Regions from separate parts of the Homo sapiens genome. Here region 1 is linked to region 2. The links come from fine-mapping of genetic effects on plasma protein levels. A gene starts in region 2. The other region holds a variant in brackets. All regions are shown on one strand. Distances are between the middles of the regions.

Region 1 (5,518 bases), 30 kb after region 2:
GCCCCCCAATTCATGAATGGATATGCTTGTGGTTTGTATTTGCGTTTTAATTACTAAGCAATCTGGCTCATCCCTTTGTGCAAAGCATTGCCTTAGGTTACAGTGTAGGAAACTGTATCAGCTCATCCTAGCACTGTTATAAAGAAATACCTAAGACTGGATAATTTATAAAGAAAAGAGGTTTAACTGGCTCACAGTTCCACAGGCTGTACAGGAAGCATAGTGACATCTGCTTCTGGGGAAGCCTCACTGTATTTATTTATTTGAAGGACTGATTTTTTAACAAAGTGAAAACTTCTCCCATGGCCTCTTCAATGCTTCCTTGAGGTCCCCGCTGTTAACATTTTGATTCTTTCAGACTTTTTCCTAGGCTTATAAAGCCATAGTAATTCTTGCTCTGCCACTTACTAGCTGCGTGACCTTGGGCAAGTTACTTAACGTCTCAGTGCCTTCCTCGGCTCATTCATAAAGTAGCTATAATGATTCCTGCATGTGAAGGTTATTATGAGAACAAAATGAGTTAATACATGCAAAATACTTAGCTCCTGGCATGCAGAGTAAAGACATAAATACATAATAAGTAGAAACAAATATTGTTTTATATACAGAGAGACAAAGAGAGACATCACATATACCATTTTGTTTACAAAAGCAGGGTAAGTATACTGTGCCAGTATCAATCATTGTGTTGCATCTGAGCTCCAAGTCCACTCTGTTCTCTTTGGTGACACCAAGCTACATCCCATAAAAAGATCTCCTTTGCTAGCGGCACAATTTTACTGGCTTTGTCAGTAGAGGGCGCCAGAGGGACGGTGCAAGGCCTAGCAGAGGACTGGATTTCTCTTCCGGGTTCTGGTGCTTCTCTTCCTGCTCTTAACGCCATGACTGCCAGCAGCTTGTAGAACCAGTGGTGCTCACCTTCAGGGAACTTTGGCAGCCTCCCAGCGGGCAGCTTCCTGCTCACCAGCCGGGGCCTGCTGACTGCAGACAGCTTGAGTGCTCTTGTACCTTTAGCAGTTAGCCTTCTTTTACTAGTTAATAATTCTTCATATTACATTTTCCCTTTCAAATTACTGGTGTGCTTTCCATCTCTAACTGGACCCTAACTTTTAGCTCATGCCTGGTATCTACCAGATGGCTTGTAAAATTTATTTAACCATTCCCCTACTGAAGGGAATGTGAGTATTATCGTTTCCAGTTTTCAGCTGTTATACCCTGTGCAGTAGTGAACATGTGTTTTTCATCCACATCACTGTTTTTGAAGGAAAAAAAATCCTGGAAGAGGAATAAATTTCTCTGCCATAGGGTTGTGCATGTAAGTCTTTGGAAAATGTTGTGAGATTGCTCTCCCTATAAGGTTGCACCAATTTATATTTCCAAACATAGGTGTAAGTGCCCACTTCCCCACACCCTCACCAATTATTATTTTTCTTTAACATTTACTAATCTTAGGGGTAATGTCTCATTGTTTTAGTTTGTTTTGTGCAATTACTAAGGAGACTGAACATTTTTTCATAACTTCATTGTCAATTTTTATTTTTTCTGTGAAACACATTGCTTATATCCCTTATTCATTTTTTAGTTGGATTGTCACTTTTTTCTAATTCATAGAAATTATTTGTTGATTCATTCCTAAAAGTGTGTATAGTTTTACAGATTTTATTAAGGGCCTTCATTCTTAGTTATGTAGCAAATATTTTCCCCGATTCATTTCATGTCTTTTTTTATGTGATGAAATACACATAACATAAAAATTACCATTTTCATCATTTTAAGTGTACAGTTCAGTAACATTAAGTACATTAATACTGATGTGTAACCACCACTCATCGCCAAAACATCTTCATCTTCCTAACCTTCATTGTATGTCTTTAAATTCATTCTTTGTGTCTTATATTATACAAAAGTTTTACATTTTTATCTATTCTAATTTATCAACCTTTTCCTTTATGACTTCTGGCTTTTACATCTTGTGTAGGGAAATTTTTGCTGGTGCTGTATTTTCTATATTTTCTTTTAATACCTTTCTAGACTTGTTTTAACATTTTATCTTTAAGCCATTTGACATTTTTGTGCTGGTATGCATGGTCTGAGGTGGGCTTCTAACTTTACTTTCTTGCAGGTGGGGACCTGATTATCCTAACACCTTTTTTAAAAAATCCATCTTTTCGCCTGGTGCAGTGGCTCATGTTTGTAATCCCAGCACTTTGGGAGGCCGAAGCAGGCGGATCACAAGGTCAGGAGATCGAGACCATCCTGGCTAACACAGTGAAACCCCGTCTCTACTAAAAATACAAAATATTAGCCGGGCGTGGTGGTGGGTGCCTGTAGTCCCAGCTACTCGGGAGCCTGAGACAGGAGAATCGCTTGAACCTGGGAGGCGGATGTTGCAGTGAGCCGAGATCGCGCCACTGCACTCCAGCCTGGGTGACAGAGCGTGACTCCATCTCAAAAAAGAAAAAAAGATCCATCTTTTTTTGATTATTTTATTATGTCACTTTTGCCAAAAAGTACCTGCCTTCTCTCCCAAAGCAGATTATCATTTCCTAGAAGGGAGGGACATTTCTTGTATCCATAAGTTTCCTCCTGACCTGGCAGATTGTACATGTTATACATGTTGGTTGGTGATATGACTGATAGGAAGCTGAATGAGAACTAGCACATTTTTAACAAAGCAAAGCAGCAGGTATCAGAACTCAGAATCAAATAAAAGCTGTCCCCCAATTCATGAATGGATATGCTTGTGGTTTGTATTTGTGTTTTAATTACTAAGCAATCTGGTTCATCCCTTTGTGCAAAGCATTGCCTTA[G/A]GTTACAGTGTAGGAAACTGTATTAGCTCATCCTCACACTGTTACAAAGAAATACCTAAGACTGGATAATTCATAAGGAAAAGAGGCTTAATTGGCTCACAGTTCCACAGGCTGTACAGGAAGCATAGTGGCATCTGCTTCTGGGGAAGCCTCAGAGAGCTTTTATTCATGGCAGAAGGCAAAGCAAGGGCAAGCATCTTACATGGCAGGAACTTGACCAAGAGAGTGGGGAGGTGCCACACACATTTAAACAACCAGATCTCATGAGAGCTCTATCACAAGAACAGCACCAAAGGGATGGTGCTAACCCATTCATGAAGGATCCATCCCCATGATCCAATCACCTCCACCAGGCCCCACCTCTGACATGGGGGATTACCTTGACGTGTGATTTGGGCAGGGACACACATCCAAACCATATCAGAAACAGAGGATGGGTAAGATATTGTTTCTGCCCTTATGAAGTTTGTGATCCCTAAATGCCCATCACTAAGGTGCTAGCTGGAGCACTGATGATCCATACATTCAATGGAGCTGTAGCAGTCATGAAAAGGATCAAGCAGATCTATATGTTCTGTTGCCCAGGCTGGAGTGCAATGGCACGATCTCGGCTCACCGCAACCTCCGCCTCCCAGGTTCAAGCGATTCTCCTGCCTCAGCCTCCCTAGTAGCTGAGATTACAGGCATGTGCCACCACGCCTGGCTAATTTTGTATTTTTAGTAGAGACGGGGTTTCTCCACGTTGGTCAGGCTGGTCTCGAACTCCCGACCTCAGGTGATCCGCCCACCTCGGCCTCCCAAAGTGCTGGGATTACAGGCATGAGCCACCGCACCTGGCTCCAAGATATGTTAAATGAGCTAACCAAGGTGCAAAACAGTCTGCTAGTGTTTGTGGGGGGAAAATGAGGGAAGGACACAAATACACATATGCTTATATAAGAATAAAATATCTCTGAAAGAATATTCAAAACATTAGAAACAATAATTATCTCCATAAAAGGCACTGAAAGTTTGGGGGACAGTGTGAAATTCACTTTTCCCCATGGACCATTTGTTTAAATTGTTTAACCATCCGCTTGTAGTTCTATTTCTAAATAAAGAAAATGGGAATTTTAGAAGTATGTTTACGATGAAACAAGAAAGATGACACAGGTACACGTGAAACAGTAAGGGAACAGAAGAGTGCCACGTTCAGAAGTCTCAACTTTGTGGCTGCAGAATCGCAAGGTGGTGCTGTAAAGGGAGGTTTCCGTCTTGCTGTAGGGCGTTGTCAATCTCAGGCGATGTGGCTGGAAGGCAGGCAGAAGGAAGCCTCTGGAAAGAACTAGGAAACGCTGCTCCACCTGCGCATGGGGGGTCGAGGTGTCTGCGCAGAGATGGCCGTGGGCAGGGAGGTTGCTGAGATCTGTTTAGCACCCCACACTGTTCTCTTCCTGCCCCTGATTTCCATTGTCTTTTCCAGAAATTTCAGCATCCTACTGAGCACAAAGAGAAATAAAAGGGGAACTTTGACTGAGTGGTTTTTCACACACAAGGACCTGGAGAGGCTGGACCCCGGCATAGCTTTTTTATGGGCAGCTGTACTTTCAATTCCTGGCAGAATGACTCATATTTCTCATCAGTAATGGAGCAGTCTATTTTTTTATTTGTTTACAATCTTCAAGATAAACCAAGCCCATTTCTCACAGGCCTAAAACTGTTGATAAAGTTGGCTTGTCCTTGATGTTTCAAGATGATAACTCAAGTGGAGAGGCCATGGCTCCTATCTCCAAGACTACTTAGTTTCTCTGGGCCTTGATTTTCTGATCTGTAAAATGGGAACTAAAACACCTCTCCATCACTCTCAGCAACATTTTTAGCAGCAGCAGGTGGCTAAACCCAAGGGCTGGAGTTGTTAATTTGGCAGCAGCAAGAAGCCCCAGGCCAAAACTGGCTCACTGTGCCCTTGCAGTGTGGCCAGACTGAGCCTTCAGAAAGGCATGAGTGGTAGGGGTGAAGATTCTTACTCTCTCATCCCTTCTGCCCTAGTGGAAGGATCCTTCTGAAGTTTCTAAGGAATTTTTTTTTTAGAGGGAGTCTCGCTGTGTCACCTAGGTTGGAATGTAGTGTCACTGGCACGATCTCAGCTTACTGCAACCTCCACCTCTCAGGTTCGAGCAATTCTTGTGCCTCGGCCACTGAGTAGCTGGGACTACAGGTGTACATCACCACACCCGGCTAATTTTTGCATTTTTAGTACAGACAGGGTTTCACCATGTTGGCCAGGCTGGTCTCATACTCCTGGCCTCAAGTGATATGCCTGCCTTGGCCTTCCAAAGTGCTGGGATTACAGGTGTGAGCCACCATGCCCTGTCTCTAAAGACCTTTTTGAAGGTTCTTCAAATGGTGAAATAGCAGCCTTATCCAATAGAGTGCTGAGCTTCTAATTGTGCATTCAGAGTGGAGGAATGCCAGCAGCAATTTGGGCGTTGTGGGTGTCATGGTGAAGATGACTGATTCTGTAGAGGAACCCCTTGACTTAACACTTATTTGTTAGAAACCGGTTTGGGGGCCGGGCGCGGTGGCTCACACCTGTAATCCCAGCACTTTGGGAGACCGAGACGGGCGGATCACAAGGTCAGGAGATCAACACCATCCTGGCTAACACAGTGAAACCCTGTCTCTACTAAAAATACAAAAAAAAAACAGCCGGGCATGGTGGCAGGCAC
Region 2 (5,243 bases):
CTGGTAAGTACATCTTGTATTGTAAGTACTTTCCTGTCTTTAGTTTTTCTTCTACAGCATGGGTTTTAATATCTGTAAGGCACTTAATCTTAGAGATGGGCTATAATTTACATAGCCAGTTCCTGATTACATTTAGGATGACTTTAAAACGCAAATCTTTAAGAATACCTCTAATTATTTTCTTAGAATAATTTCCTAAAAGTAGTATTATGGTGTCAAAATGAATAAACCTTTTTGAGGCTCTTGTTACACATTCAATAGCATTTTCTGACAGTATATAATAAAAATCAATACAATCCAAGGCTGAGATGACATGAATTTGGATATAATAAGATTGGCGCATAGCTCCGTCCTCCATAGCCATCTCATCTCACTCATTTCATTACCTTTTCAACAACGTGACAATGCTTTTTAAGTGGTTTCCCCATCAAATCATAACTGACATTTAGAAGGGAAAATGCTAACGTGGCTTCTTCTCTGGCCTAGGTGTTCCAGGATACACTGTCAGATGATAGTCAGCCTTTTCTGTTTTTTGTTTTTTGCTTAAGTTACACATCCCTCTAGTCATAGTACCTAGAAAACAGTCACTTGCAAAGGATTTATGACACCATTAACAACGGGCCATCCAGCACTGTAAGGGGAGAGACATCGTGTGGCAGTTCTTGTTTTATGGGACCTAGATTTTCTGCACTAGCTTATGGGCTAGAAACTTTGTTAAGCTAGTATTTTTTAAACAATGTACTTGTATTTTTGGTTCCTAAAAACAGTAAAAGTAACACTTGTTTCATAGAGAAAGTACAGAGAAGTATAAAAAGAAAATAAAAATTACTTAAAAACTTGCCATTTGGAAGTAATTCTTTGGTCACATTTTGTGGCCTTTTCCCAATTTTTTTTCCACATGTATATATAACATATGTAAATTTGAATATGTTGCCATGTAATACATATATTTTATATAATCTCTGCTAAATAGTAAATGTATATAAGTCTATTTGTATTACATAAGTATATTTATTATTTTATATATTTATGCCCCAAAGTATTTAAATATAAATATGTGTTTATAATAATCATATAAATAAATGATATATAAATGTTTGTAATCTATATATCCATATAAACATAAAAATATTTTTTAACCTCATTTCACTAAAAGCCTCTGAAGAAACTACTATTACTGTCCCCATTTTTCTGTTGTGAAAAATCACGGCTTGGAAATAAGCTAGTAAGAGAGAGAGCCACAGCCAGATTTAAGTGTCTCACTCAAGGGCTTCAGTGACAGATCACAAAGATTTAGACGTCATTCTACTTGCAGCTGGAAGGCAGTGAAAGAATCTCATGAAGAAAAACATAAAATCATAACTTTTTTAGAGAACAACATTTCAAAAAATTTTATAATAACAAAGCCACAAAAACAGAAGTTCTTAACAAATCCACTATAGGAGAGGGGGTTAGAGCCTCACAAAGGAAGTGCTAGAATCTAGGCCCCAGCATCTCATTCCAGAGTCCCATTCTACCACTGTATTACATGTCACAATTAAACTGTAAATACATTCCATCTCATCACAATCATTCCAGTAATATTCTAGCAGCATCCTAGCTCTTGCAGTGATAACTAAAAAGCAAAACATGCATTTGCCATCGGAAGCAGAAACCTGCATCTCATCCGAAGCTTGAGAGAACCTGAAAGCCACTCGCTCTCAGGCCCAAACCCCTAACCGGCAGGTAGTATTGCCACTCCCTCCAATCCAGGCTGGCTGCCTCAGACTGCGGGCTGCCCCGGAACCTGACAGACATCCATTCTGCACGCACATGATGTCCATAACAGGGCGCTGCAGCCACGGCATTCAAACAACCCAGCAAAGGTGTCCAAACCTCAGCAAAACATATAATCCCATCATTTTCAAACAGAATGAAACTTGCAACTTCACCTGTAAATTCTTAACCCCACAAGTGCAGGTCTCTGATTGTGTCTATCTAGTCTTCCCATTATATTGTTTTTTGAACTGTTCTGTATCTTTTTAATTTTTTTTTTTTTTTTTTTTTGAGACGGAGTTTCGCTCTTGTTGCCCAGGCTGGAGTGCAGTGGCACGATCTCGGCTCACCACAACTTCCACCTCCCAGGTTCAAGCGATTCTCCTGCCTCAGCCTCCCGAGTAGCTGGGATTACAGGCATGCGCCATCATGCCCGGCTAATTTTGTATTTTTAGTAGAGACGGGGTTTCTTCATGTTGGTCAAGCTGGTCTCAAACTCCCGACCTCAGGTGAACCACCGCCTCGACCTCCCAAAGTGCTGGGATGACAGGCGAGAGCCACCACGCCCAGTCTTTTTTAATTTCTTTAAAAAATAAATAATTGAATTAGTAGGACCACATGGGTGTGTTTGTGTGTATGTGTGTGTGCGTTTATGTTGGCAAGTGTGTATGTTGGTGGGTATGTGTGTTGGTGGGAGGATAGCTGTAGCAGCAAAGTCAGTAGAGATTTAAATTTTGGCTTCTATTATTTCACAAGTTTGACTGGGATCAGGATGAGGCCTTTATACAAGTAGTTAAACTTGCAGCATTTCAGAAGCTCCTAGGACTTCATCAGTCTAAGCTAGAATGGCCTTCAGATCTGGAAACTGCACGGCCCTCGGCAAGGCTCTCAGAGGGACTGCTACCTCTTACACTAACTTCATGGTTTCCCCATCCACACTCACATACGAGGATCACCTCCATGGCCCCAGGGCCACCCGATCTCACTCTCAGCAGCCTAGAAAACTCCAGAATCAAAGGCCTTCCTCCCAAAAGGCCCCTCTGACCTTAACAAAGAGGCAAATCCTTACCTTACTCTCACGATGGTAGCACCTTCGTCACAGGCCTATCCACTACCATCTGAGCATCTAAGACAAGAGCAAACGTCTAATGAAGGACGGAAGGGCACAGCCAGCCAGCTCTACTTCCTGTTTCGAAACTCCTGAGTCACAAACACTAGAGGGGAAAGAGCGCTTACCACTTGCCCCTGAGTGAGCAGAGTGCCTTCTAAAGCTTCTAAAGCTGCAGGAAAAAGGCCTGGTGGTCCAGGAGACCGCACGCAGGGCACCTGGCCACCTGAGCACTGGCCCCTGGCTGTGACTTTGGATGGGCCATTTTACCTTTGGGGCCTCATTTCCACATTCCAAAACAAGGACGTTGGACTGGATTGTAACTAAGAACACTTTCATTTCATATTTAGGATTTAAAGATTTTTCTGGGTTCATCATTAAGACTTTAATTTTTTCATTCAATGAATCTTGATGGAGCACCTCAGAGAGGTCTTGAGATTGGACACTGCAGAGCCCTCTCATCTTGGTTCTCAGGGTGGCTGTGAACTTTCAGAGCTAAAGCCCCTGGTTTAGCCAAGGAGCATCTCTGTGGCCCCAAGGTCACCAGATTCCACCCTCAGCAGCCTAAAATACTCTAAAATTAAAAAAAAAAAAAAACTCTAAAAAGAAAAAACTCTAAAATGAAAAACCTCTAAAAAGAAAAAACTCTGAAATAAAAAAATTCTAAAATGAAAAAAATCTAAAAAGAAAAAACTCTAAAATGCAAAAACTCTTTGGTAAGATGGTAAGTCCATCTTACCAAAGGTGATCCTTGTATATGAGTGTAGCTGAGGAAACCATGAAGTTAGCTGAAAGCTGGGTTTACCATCTTATCAAAGAAGCAAATCCTGGGGCCCTCACCATGTTGGGCTCTAGGGATATACCAGTAAACAAAATATTGCCTTCATACTGAGAGTTAGATGAAATGTTTTCTGATATTAAAAGTAGGAAAAGAAAATCAAACACCTCTCTTCTTTGAAACTGCCTTTTGTCTTTCCCCAAATAGAATATAAGCTTTCAGAGGGTAGGGACTCATAGCTGAGAAGACTGAACGAAGTATCTGAAAAGGACTCTTCACCAGAGAGGGCTAGGTCAAGATGGCCTCATAATATCAATGCCTGGATGGCCACCGTGGCTCATGCATGTAATCCTAGCACTTTGAGAGGCCAAGGTGGGAGGATCCCTTGAGCATAGGAGTTTGAGACCAGCCTGGGCAACAAAATGAGACACCATCTCTATGAAGAAAAATTTTTTAATTAGCCAGGTGTGGTAGCACGCGCCTGTGGTCCCAGCTAATCTGAAGGCTGAGATGGGAAAATTGCTTGATCCCAGGATGTTGAGGCTGCAGTGAGCCGTGATTGCACCACTGCACTGCAGCCTGGGTGACAGAGCAAGACTTTGTCTCAAAAAATAAATAAATAAAAAAGAAATAGAAACAGAATGAGCAAAATAAAATACCAATAGTATTAATATGCAATAATAATTGCTAACTCGTGTAGTAAGTGATGTATGCGTATTATCTCCTTCAAGCCTCACAGTCACCTCTGGAGGCATTATTAATCATTTAATGATGAGATAACAGAGGCACAGAGGAATTACTTGCCTGAGATCGCATAGTTAAAAAACAGTGTACACATACAAAAGAAAAATACATTTTGCAAAGATACAGATAAATTCACGAATCCACATCAAAACATTAGAGAACTGTCTTTGGGGAACAAGAGAGAGGGCAGGAGGGCAAGGGTGGGGGTGGAGAGATAAAAGGAAACCCTTCAGACACGGAAGAGGGGGAAGGGGCTGTGCACCTCAGGGCATCGTGATTCGACAGAATGACAGAATAAAGTACTTAACCGTCGGCCCCAGGGCCAAATGAAAAAGAAAAAAAAGTGGATTGATAAAGTCTTCTGGACTCTCCAAACGGGTCCACAGGAGGGAGACCGTGTATCTGCATTCGAGGCGGCAGGGAAGCTTGGAGGACAAAAAGGTAGCAGAGGAACTGGAGACTGCTCAGAGTGAAAAAGTAGCAAAGTCAGAGGCAACGGCTCAGAGAGAAACCACACAGGAGACCTGGGCCAGGCAGCACCCAGAGGTGTCCTCAGAAGGGCAGATCCAAGTTGCTTCCCCACCCCCACAGCCCTGTTTCTAGAGCAAGTCAAGAAACAAAAATATTGTGGTTTCCTGTTGAAGAGGCCACCTTGGCAACAGGCACTCACCCGCTCCACCCTTTCCTGGCACCATCGCAGTCTCCGAGTCCCCTAACCTGCCTAACTCCACGTGCTCAGCAGGGAAGGGGGTGGGAAAGGCTCCCAGGAAGAAGTTTCTTTTACTTTCAATAACCACCCTGGCTCTTCTGCCTCCCTCCATGGCCTCACTTCCTGTTGAGTTGACTAGCAAATTCAGC

Which allele goes with the higher level. Alleles are on the strand shown, and positions count from the first base shown. The strength of an association depends on the size of the effect and on how common the allele is.
For the plasma level of the protein whose gene starts at base 2,902 in region 2, allele G in region 1 goes with a lower level than allele A (weak association).

What was found. A credible set is the group of variants that fine-mapping cannot tell apart. PIP is the posterior inclusion probability: the model's chance that the variant is causal. The UK Biobank Pharma Proteomics Project read protein levels with antibody pairs (Olink). The fine-mapping took linkage between variants from a reference panel, not from the people measured, so its PIPs are less certain.
Region 1: its variant is the best candidate, but not a certain one, in a credible set for the plasma level of the CASP8 protein (UK Biobank, PIP 0.81).

What each region holds. Positions count from the first base shown.
Region 1 is chr2:201,227,700-201,233,217 of GRCh38, reverse strand. It overlaps a transcript of CASP10 not described here. Among named protein-coding and RNA genes, the nearest start is that of CASP8, 30 kb to the left of the region's middle. RefSeq lists an enhancer at 784-1,033. The variant G/A (reference allele first, on the strand shown) is at 2,811.
Region 2 is chr2:201,258,195-201,263,437 of GRCh38, reverse strand. CASP8 (caspase 8) reads right to left here and starts at 2,902. Exons shown (of 9, transcript NM_001372051.1): 1 at 2,825-2,902. RefSeq lists enhancers at 4,598-5,017, 5,038-5,097, 5,094-5,238, 5,198-5,243 and a cis regulatory region at 5,166.